Regions from separate parts of the Homo sapiens genome. Here region 2 is linked to region 1. Evidence: fine-mapped expression QTL. Tissue or cell type: prefrontal cortex. Region 1 holds a variant in brackets; the other region holds the start of a gene. All regions are shown on one strand. Distances are from middle to middle.

Region 1 (5,392 bases):
TTTCCCCTCATTCTCAATTAAGACAGCCTTGAGCAAATTTAATTTCTGTGATGATCAGATCTAAAGCTCTAAGTATTGACTAAACACTGCTAAGAGCATCGAATTGCATAATTGAGACCAAATGCTTGCCACAAACAGCTCCATGTCATCTCCTACATGAATGGATTACTCTAAAATATCAGTTCATGCACTGGCTTCTTTGAGATGACCTAGGAAACTTGTTACATGACAGATTCCTAAGTTGTATTGCCCAATATTTTGCCTCAGTCTGTTTGATAGTCAGCTAAGTTTGCCAGGTTTGGGAACTCCAGTTTTAGACCTCAAATTAGAAGTCACTCTGGGAAGAGCCCTTGAGCACTCATTTGGTGAAGTCACTTTAACCTTGTCCAGCTTACTCTGGTGCTGTTTGCCTAATTTTCAAGGATATGAATTATGCTACTTTGTTATATCTAAGTGGAAGGAAAATAGGAGCCCCAATAGCATTCTGTTGAGTCACTTCCACAAAATGATCCTCTGAGACTCATTTTGCAGATGCACTGAGATCCAAAGATAGCTGTATAAAGGGATTGTAGGCATAAGGCCATCAGATACACCAAAGTACACACATATATGCCTACACATGTACACACACTATCATTGCCTTGTCTCTGAGAACCATAGACAAAGTTGGCCAAGCCCTTGGCCAGGACTGTTGTGAATGATTGCTCAAACTGTATGCTGAACAGTTCTGGGCACCATTTTCATAGACTGCAATATGAATAGTCCACCAGCAGTTGTGCAATATGGTGGGCCTTGGAAAAATGTAGTTATTATTTTGAAAATAGGAAGGAGCCCACCACTGAGGAAGCAAACAAAATGTTTGTGGTGAAATTTCAACAGGATTATCTTCTTGTTATGCAATTAGGTCTCAAGCTCTGCTCTCAGCACATGGACATGCATATGCACATACTCTACTTATTGAATTTTTCCTTTTCTCTAATCCAGGATGATTTGCAAAAGTTTTCCTTCCATACCTCTACACCACAGATGGATTGAGAAATGTCACAACAAATTAGAAGTGAAGAGTTAAGTCATGGCAAGTGACTCCTCAACTCAAGGCTCCTTCAACATTCTGGAACTGTTTAATGTCAATCTTGACTTTGTCTCCAGGGCCCTTTTCTTTTCTTTTTTCTTTTTCTTTCTTTCTTTCTTTCTTTCTTTTTTTTTTTTTTTTTTTTTGAGACAGTTTTCACTCTCGTTGCCCAGGTTGGAGTGCAATGGCATGTTATCAACTCACTGCAACCTCTGCCTCCTGGGTTCAAGCAGTCCTCTGGCCTCAGTCTCCTGAGTAGCTGGAATTACAAGCGTGTGCCACCATGCCCGGCTAATTTTTGTGTTTTTAGTAGAGACGGGGTTTCACCACATTGGCTAGGCTGTTCTTGAACTCCTGACCTCAGCTGATCCACCCGCCTTGGCCTCCCAAAGTGTTGGGATTACAGGCGTGAGCCAATGCGCCCGGCCCCAGGGCCCTTTTCTTAAAACCAAATCCCATGCAATAAAGCACGTTTATTTCATGCAACACAGCTTAGTTAATGCTTATACTTCCAAATACTCCGGTTTACTAGGTACAACTCAATCAGGAGTGCCTAGTATAAAAGAACATGCACAGCACAGCGACAGAGAATGTTCATCACCAAACACAAGGAAGCAAAGGAGATGCAAAGCTATGGTAGCTAGAGGAGGATTAGCTTTCCTGATTTCAGTTTGAGAAAAGCCACTTGTCTCTACAGTCCACTAGTTTGGCAAGGCATTTGCCCTTGGCTGTGAGATGATGTTACATTCAAAGTAAGGTATATTAATTTCCAGGCTTGTCCAGGATCAGGGGCTGGAGTCTTCCTTCAATAGTAATCCTTTCCTTAAAACCAGTTCTAAGCTTTGTATTTGTTTTATTAAGTGATTGGATAGCCCTGAAATATGAGTTTCCTCCAATCTCTTCCACTTTGCAAACTCCAGAACCGTTTGACCAATAAGTTAAAACCCAGAGGAGGACTGACTGTGAGCTAAGGCTTCAGACATGCAAAGCGCACAACCCTGGGAAACAGCAGCATCTGGGACAGGAGGCTCCCATTACTACACATGAGGGTGTCATAGGTTTTGCAAATCAAACACACATAGAAAACCAGTAGTAGCCTGGGTTGGACACACTGTATGAGTTGCACAGTTGAGTGAGGACCCAGACCAGGGAGCCACATGTTCCTCTAGCTTGCATACATTTATTTCACACCACCTCAGGCCACTCATAGTTTGCTTACCTGCTCATTGTTGCTCTCCCACCATTCCCCATACTCCCTTTGGGGGTGAAACACTCTATTTCCGACTTGTGCTGGGCCAGTCTCCTGTCTTTGTACCTGGTGAGCATGAACAAGGACAGGAGCAAACAGAAAGACGTGATTGTGTGCTTAACTGCCAGGCTGAGGAACGGCCGTGACTGTGGAGATGGTCACTCTGTGCCAAAATGGGGGTT[C/T]CTGCTTCTCAATGCAATGACCAACCTGTGATACTTATTAGATGAATGTGATGGCATATGGACAACATCAGGGATGACGTTGTTACTTTTTGGTTAAACCACATGTAACCCATTCTTTCACATTGCCTATTAAACTGAATATGTCACATTTAATAGTCAATGGTAAAGGTGTGCAATTTCTAGCATCTTAGAAAAAGATGAATATCAATCAACACATTAGAATCTATTCAGTGCTTACCATGTGTCAGACACTATGCTAGAACTTTACCTAAATTGTATCCAGGCAACAGCCCTGGGCCAGAGGCTTTGTTATCATTTCCATTTTACTGATGAAGAAACCTAAGATTATAGAGGTTAAGCAAATTAATCAAAGATTAGTTAATTAAATAAGTGGTTGGGCTGGATTTTGAATACAGGGAATCTAAGTTTAGAACCCACACTTCAGCCATTATAATGTGTTGCCTTCCATTATCAAGTTTTTAAGCTAATTATTATCTTGAGCAAGCCCTCATTGAGTGATACCATTCTGGATGTTGTTAGACATTGGCAATAACAGAGGAGAGAAGACATGTTCTTTGGATATTAAAAGTTTCTGTAAACATTAAGCTGAAGTTTTACTGTCAGTATTGGGATGCCGCCATTATTTTTGTATTATAATTGGCAGTTCACCGCGCTTTGAAGATACCAGATATTTCATCTAAAATAAGTGATGAGATTCCCAATATTACTCTTCTACGTGGTGCATCAAGATGAGTTCTTGTATCTCAATGACAGTTTTTTGAGCTAACATGATTTCACAGAAATAACCTCTTTTACTCATTGGTTCGATTCTGTAAGGTTTTTAAAAAAGAACTGTTATTTCCATTTGCCAGATGAGGAAGCTAGATTTACTTAACTGACTTCATGAAAGTCACAAGCCTCATCAGTAGAGAATAACCACCTGTAGAGCTTGCAGGGGCCCAGAGCTCTTAAGGTTTTATTACCTTTTCCCTAATTAAACTGGAGCCTGGTATAACACCACTTCATCCACCTTCCTGGTATCCAGTAGGCTATGATAAAGGGAGTTACTATAATAAGACTTGTTTATCTCAGTACAGTCACACTCTTTTTAGTTTATTTTCCTGCTGTTTCAAAAGTAGTATAAAATAAAATAAAATGCAACAAAGTCAACATCATTATTGATCCTGGGGCAGAGGCCTTCCTCTTAATTTTTTTTCCCTTCTAAAATGTTTAAAGTATCTAGTATTTGAAGAAAAATGGCTTATTACATCAAGCAAAATGAATTTAATGGATTACCTATTTAACGGACATTAGTTGAGCATTTATTAAATCCTAGGTAATGGACTTTGCACTACAGATGTAAAGATAAGTAATCTGCAGGCCCCACCTGTTAGAATTTACCTAACAGTAGGAGAAGGAAGGAAATAAGAAATACGTACACAAGTAATTTTAGATGTAGGCATAAAGAAGAGAGGAAAAGAACTTAGAGACTTTGTTAAAGGAGGTAAATCATCAGACCAAGCTAGATTGAGTAGACTTAATTTTACCAAGAAAATACCTTAGAAGTACCAATGGCCAAATGATGCTCAATGTTTCAATGCAAAGTATTTTGTGCTTCTTTGTGAATTGGATTGCTCAAGCAAAATACTGCTCGACAGCTCAAATTAAAAGAATATTGATAGAATAATAAATTATTGGTGGTCATTCACTTCCTTACAAAGGGATCCTTAACATATTTTTGAATATCTTCTGTTAGGCTAATTGTGAATTAATCATTAAATATTTCATAGATGAGTTAAGAAACCTACAGTCTTCATGCTTATAAGCTCTTCTCTTTCTTTCTTTCTCTCATGACCACACACACTCTGCCAGGTGACCTCTGTTTATGAAATATGGAATAGATCCTAAGCATCTTATTCTATCAAACTCTAACCTCTGTGAAGAAAAAGGAATGCTTACACACTGCTAGTGGGAATGGAAATTAGTTCAGCCACTGTGGAAATCAGCTTGGCAATTTCTCAAAGAACTTAAAGCAGAACTACCATTTGACCCAGAAATCCCATTACTGGTCATATACCTAAAGGAATATAAATCTCTCTATCATAAAAACACATCCATGTATATGTTCACTGCAGCACTATTCACTATAACAAAGTCATGGAATCAACCTAAATGCCCATCAACGGTAAAATGGATAAAGAAAATGTGGTACATATACATCATAGAATACTATGCAGTCATAAAAAGAATGAGATCATGTCCTTTACACATGAATAGCACAGGAGGGCATTATCCTAACCAAACTAATGGAGAAACAGAAAACCAAGTACTTCATGTTTTCATTTATCAATGGGAGCTTAACACTGAGTACGCATGGACACAAAGGGAAAAATAGACACTGGGGCCTCCATGAGGGTGGAGGGTGGGAGGAGAGTGAGGATCAAAAAACTACCTACCAGATTCTATACTTATTACCTGGGTGATGAAATAATCTGCATATTATACCCCTGCAAAACACAACTTACCTATAAAACAAACCTGCACATATACCCCTGAACCTAAAAGTTTAGAAAAACCATAGAAACAAAACAAAAAACAAAAACAAAACCTAACTGCTTTTGGTAAAAGCTTTCACTGACATATAAAAAACAAAATAATGAAAATTCAAAACAATAATAACAAAACTCATTTTAAAAATGTGAGCAATATCTTAGACTTTTTGGAACTTTCAAGCAGTTTTTGTATTCAATGCAAGCTGAAAATGGCATTAATACAGAATGGGAAACTCATCATTGCTTTCAGATAGGACCCTACTTGCCTGTCTGTACCTGTAATTATATTCACCAGATATTTAAATAGATCATATTTTTATTCATTCACTTACTCATT
Region 2 (5,392 bases), 21 kb before region 1:
GTGTATAAATTATAACTTTTATATCATAGCATTTCCAAAATTCTTTTCATGAAACTCTACTCTGAGGAGACAGCTTCATTAGCAAAGTTAATGGATATTAGAATACTATAAATTGGGCCGGGCACGGTGGCTCACGCCTGTAATCCCAGCACTTTGGGAGGCCGAGGCGGGCGGATCACAAGGTCAGTAGATCGAGACCATCCTGCGAATGGTGAAACCCCGTCTCTACTAAAAATACAAAAAATTAGCCGGCGATGTGGTGGGCGCCTATAGTCCCAGCTTCTTGGGAGGCTGAGGAGGGAGAATGGTGTGAACCCGGGAGGCGGAGCTTGCAGTGAGCCGAGATCGCGCCACTGCACGCCACTGCACTCCAGCCTGGGCTACAAAGCGAGACTCCGTCTCAAAAAAAAAAAAAAAGAATACTATAAATTGGTAACTTCCGAAGTGAAGATAGCCATTTAATTTGGAATTACTACATTTTTCAAACTTTTAAGACTCTAAGAACTTTTATGAATCACCTATTACTATTCAGCAGTTCAGAAAAGCCACAATTTATTATGTGGTTTTCACGGACATAGAATTTGTATAATTTAAAATATAACATCTATCTCATCATAGAAATCTGATAGTATGAAAATTTTTATTTTTAATGTCAATGAATAAAAATACAAGCTATACATAAATAAGCCAAAGTGTCTGATATGTATATCACATAGGTATCCTGTATATAGATCATACCTCAAAGAGACTTATGTCCTGGCAAAAATAAATGTCTTTGTCCTGGTGTAACAGTAATTTAAAACATTTATTCTAGTGGAGGTTAAGTGTTCCTGGAAACTTTTGGTTCAGGATTCTAAGAGTGGCTGGAGAAGATGAGTTTAAACATTCTCTTCATAGAACTTATTTACTAACATAATAACCTAAAAGTAATAAACAGAGTGAGATGTAATAACTGATTCTGAGTTTTAAAATACTGTGAGAGAAAATGTAAATACCAAGCTTTTGCTTAAGGAGATAACTTCATTAATATAATTCTGCCTATCTATGTGCTTACCTACCTTTCTGCCTAGCTATCATACAAAGTAAATATTTGCAAATTGTTTATGTTCTAAAACTGATCATTCATGTACAGCATAACCAAAAACTTGGCCAGCATTCAGCAGCAATTATAACAGAGGAAAAGCATTCTCTCTGTGGTGTTCAATATCAATTTACTAAGTTGTCCTTGATAGACAGTTCCAAGGTTGCATATGAGTTCAAACCTCAATAGGTTTCCTCCAGGATATATGCTTTAAGTTGGACAGGAACTTGTTAAGCTCCACAAATAACATTGATATAACAAATTTAAGCTTCCTGCTGAATATTAACTGTATACTAAATACTACATTGACACTAATAATAGCTACTATTGAGCATTTATCAGGAATGTTGAAATGATAGAAACTTCACAGATTATTGTAACTCACTTCTGCATTTAAAGCAAGAGGAACAAGTTGTAGAGAAATCAGAGTGATTTATCCAAAGTCAGTTGGTGACAGGTAAGAGATCCTGGCTTTTAATTCAATGCTATTTCTATTGCATCCGCTGGTTTTAAATGGCCTTCCATAATTTGATGGAGTCTGATAAGGCTCTTTGGATTTTTAGAAGGTAATTTCCTGTACCTGGTTTGTATATGTCACTTCATCCTCAATTTTATGTGAACATATTACCATTCATATCACGTTAGAATAAAAGATACTGAAGGGAAGAGTCTGACAAAACAGATAAAATGGCTTTCTTTGTTAAGATCAAACACATTCTGTATAATATATGTATCTACATATGTATATATATCATTATGCATTTAATACAATGTCAGAAGCATAAATCAAATATATTTTTAAATATACCTTGTTTTTCTCTTCCATACATCAAGCATCTACCTTATATTCTGCTGTTAGTTTTTCACTAATTTGTGTCCAGGGAATGTATATTTGCTCAAGAATCAGTCAAAGTAAAACTTTTTTTTTTTCTGGAAAAATTATGTAATATGCACATACATCTACACACAAACACACATATACACAGAGACACATGCAGATGGACTCAAAAGTCAAATGTCTATATAAATATGTATGTTTGTAAACACACATCTATACACACACAAATAATCTATTTTATCTGTGTGATGTTACCTCTATCAACACATATAATTATGAAACTATTTCTATAATTTGTATGTCTAGATGCATAAACAATGCATATTTCCTATATATTTTTTTAAGTACTTCTTTATGTAACAGTTGTTTGTAGATGTGTTTGGGGACAACATCTCTGGTTGGTTTGTGGTTGGTTTATATTTTCATTTAAATCTATACAGTCCACTGCTTACTTTGTAAACCCCATAATTCAAATGTATAGATCATCCAGTATTCAAGATTAATTAGTATCATGGCTCTTTTCATCTCAGAAAACACTATTAAGACAACATTCTAAACATTTGAGGGGAATAATCTTAAAATCATATTATAGGTTTTTTAATTTTTTTGAAAAGTAACTGGCTTCACAAACACCAAGTACAACATGATTTAGACAACTGAGAAACAGGCAAGTATATTTTGAAGTGCTAAAATAAAACATATTTATACAAGTACAAAGCAAAACAATGCTGATAAAAATGTTAAACTTTATGAAAAAAAATCATTTGCAGTTCACATCAAAATAATTTAACATTCTCTATTATTTTAATAGTACAAGCTGCCACAACAGAGAAAGAACAGATACACGCACACAATTTTAAAACCAAATCAGTTATAAGTGCAGAAAAAAGTAAGTACAAGCACTTTTAGCCCACACAAATCTTTTAGGATTGGCACCATCTTTCTAAAACATCTATAATCTATATAGATTTCTAATTACAACACCATCAGCAGCTGCCATTGATTTCTAGAAATACACACAATATACATAGTATATTTGTTCACATTGGGAAGATCAGTGAAATTCAACCAACTATTTTATACATGCCTCATTCTTCAATAGACAGTAGAGACTCTCCCAGGCCTCAGACCCTCTTCAAAGTGAATTCTGACTTGTCTTTATGCTTTCACTGATCTGTATTTTTTCACAGTATAAAATTGTAAATGGTAACTATAGAGATTCTGACAGCTTGAGGGTTATTAATAAGCTGTTGCTAAATGTGAACTCACATAATACCTTTGAAGTCTCCAAAACATGTACATTTTACTGGGAGACTAGCATAGGAAATGCTTTTGTTTTTTGTTATTCTTAAAAAGAGCATTTAATTCCTGGCTTGGAAGTCACAGAACTGCAGCAGAGCTATTATACAATTCATTTACAGTCAGAAATAGCTCCTAGTCTTCCTGATCACTTGCTGGTAACAGCAGTAGTTTGGGAAAGATAGTTACTTTCAAGGATTAGCACGTTTGGGGATTTGCTTTTTTTCCTTGCTTCAGTCAAATCTCTTATAATTTTTCTTTCCATACTCCCTTTCTGTTCCCCATCCCTAGCCCAGAAAGACGGTTCTTCCCAATCCAGATATGTTCTTCTTAGGCTGCCCCCACTCCTTTCCCAAAATGGAAGGATGAGTGGACTGCTTAGATTAGTCAGTATAACTTGGTTAAACCACGTCTTCTTCTTTCCATCCTGGGACATATCTCTCATTTAGGGTCACTTTGCTGAGCCTTAGCATATCCCCTTCCTTTTAGTCATGCTGGTCCCGACTGAATTATCACTGGGCACCAGGAACAGATTGTTTTGAAGGAAATTCAATGAGAATGTACCCAAATGAATTGTGAAGTTCATATCCTATAGCCCTAGAATGAATATTCAGTTCTCTTTGTACTGTAGAGTTATTACTTGGAACCTGGTATTAGAATTGGCAAAGAGACAGAGTTAGCATCATTCCAAAATAAAAGATCTCAAGAATGCATTACTAATAATCTTATGTCCAACATACAATGTATTCAATGGAGTGGCAAAAGTTATAGAAATACAGAGAAAAATATATCTTGTCCTTTTCTAATTGGATAAATCATTTTTATTATTACAGTTGATTATGATAGCATGTGGAAGTATCAGATGGCAATTTACTTGCATTAAATTTAATTTCTGATGAAGTTTTTTATAAGGTAGTGTGCTTTTTAAGAGATATGTTACTAAAAAAATAGAAAATGAATTTGACCATGAACAAAGTTTAAACATGTTCTTCAACTGGTCTAGAGTGAAACGTATTGTACTTGAGAATAAAATGAAAATCAACATAAGGATTTTATAAAACAAATTTTAAAATGTAGAGCATATCAAGAAAGGTTTTTAATACCTAAGAAGTCAAGATAGGAATCCTCAGGTGAATGCCATCCTTTTGATGAGGATCCAAAGGGTATTAACACCTCAAAAGATTTCCATTTGTTTTTCAGATAGAGGCAGACATTTGCTTTTAATGAAACCATGAAACTTAGCTAGATTTCACTTACATTTTAAAAGCCTCGGTGTAATATTTGGGATCAGGGTGCTGTGATGATGTTATTTTCAAATCTAGCATGGGAGGTTCGATTTCTTTTAAATTAATACTTTAGTACATTAATGTTAGCTTTTAATGTTTTGTATTGGGAGGTTTGACTTAAAGTTGCAAGTAAGAACAAATAGCAGAAAAGAAAACTCAAGCAGAATATTTATTAGAATTTTTTAAAGTGAAGAATGATAAATTATGCCAATGGACTGACTTCTATTTCTCAGTTTATTTTCTGTTAAGTAGATGTGAAATAAAAAAAAATACTTACCAAAGTAAGGATATTGAGCTAAAAGAAAAAGTTTTATTTATTATTCTCTCTGCCAAAATATACTTCTGCCTCACAGCACATATTTTTCATAAGGCTATCTTAAGTATAAGGCTGGGTCAACTGAACTTTAAATTTATAGGACACCTCCTCCATTTATTACTATCCTTATTTAAAAATCAAAACATTTGGTACCTGAGGATAGCTGCAATGGGAGGAAGAAAGAGATGACAGTGGATTCAGGTCTTGAACTATGAATTCTACCTATTTGAGACTATCAAAGCACACTTGTTTCTGTTATACTCTAAATCTCTTTTCTGTAGTTTTAAAAAGTGACAGTATGAAGTGCACAAAATCATATTAATCATTATTTTAAAAAAGAAAATAAGAATTGCTTTGCCTCTTTTTGGAATGGCTAAGAAAGACTGTGTGGTTAATATTCATTAAGGTTCCTCTTTTTTAGTATTTTGTATTGCTTTGAAAAATCTACATTTGTCATAGTTCATAGCTGCCCTGTTTAAGCAGCCAAGAATAGTTAAAATCACTGCTCACTGGCATAGCTAAATCTCCACTAAGCTGACTTGACACAGTTAAAATTTTCAGTGTATTAAGAT

Alleles and levels. Positions count from the first base shown, and alleles are read on the strand shown. Sizes are in standard deviations (SD) of each study's normalised expression.
With allele C in place of T in region 1, the expression in prefrontal cortex of the gene that starts at base 2,501 in region 2 is higher (small effect, 0.35 SD a copy in BrainSeq).

The links. PIP is the estimated chance that this variant, and not a neighbour inherited with it, causes the effect.
Region 2: GRM5-AS1 starts here. The variant in region 1 is the best candidate, but not a certain one, in a credible set for the expression of GRM5-AS1 in prefrontal cortex (BrainSeq, PIP 0.78).

What each region holds. Positions count from the first base shown.
Region 1 is chr11:88,523,018-88,528,409 of GRCh38, forward strand. It overlaps GRM5 (glutamate metabotropic receptor 5), which reads right to left. Exons shown (of 10, transcript NM_001143831.3): 9 at 2,292-2,387. It overlaps GRM5-AS1 (GRM5 antisense RNA 1), which reads left to right. Exons shown (of 6, transcript NR_049724.1): 6 at 985-1,037. Among named protein-coding and RNA genes, the nearest start is that of GRM5-AS1, 21 kb to the left of the region's middle. The variant C/T (reference allele first, on the strand shown) is at 2,504.
Region 2 is chr11:88,502,076-88,507,467 of GRCh38, forward strand. GRM5-AS1 (GRM5 antisense RNA 1) reads left to right here and starts at 2,501. Exons shown (of 6, transcript NR_049724.1): 1 at 2,501-5,392. GRM5 (glutamate metabotropic receptor 5) reads right to left here. Exons shown (of 10, transcript NM_001143831.3): 10 at 2,567-5,392.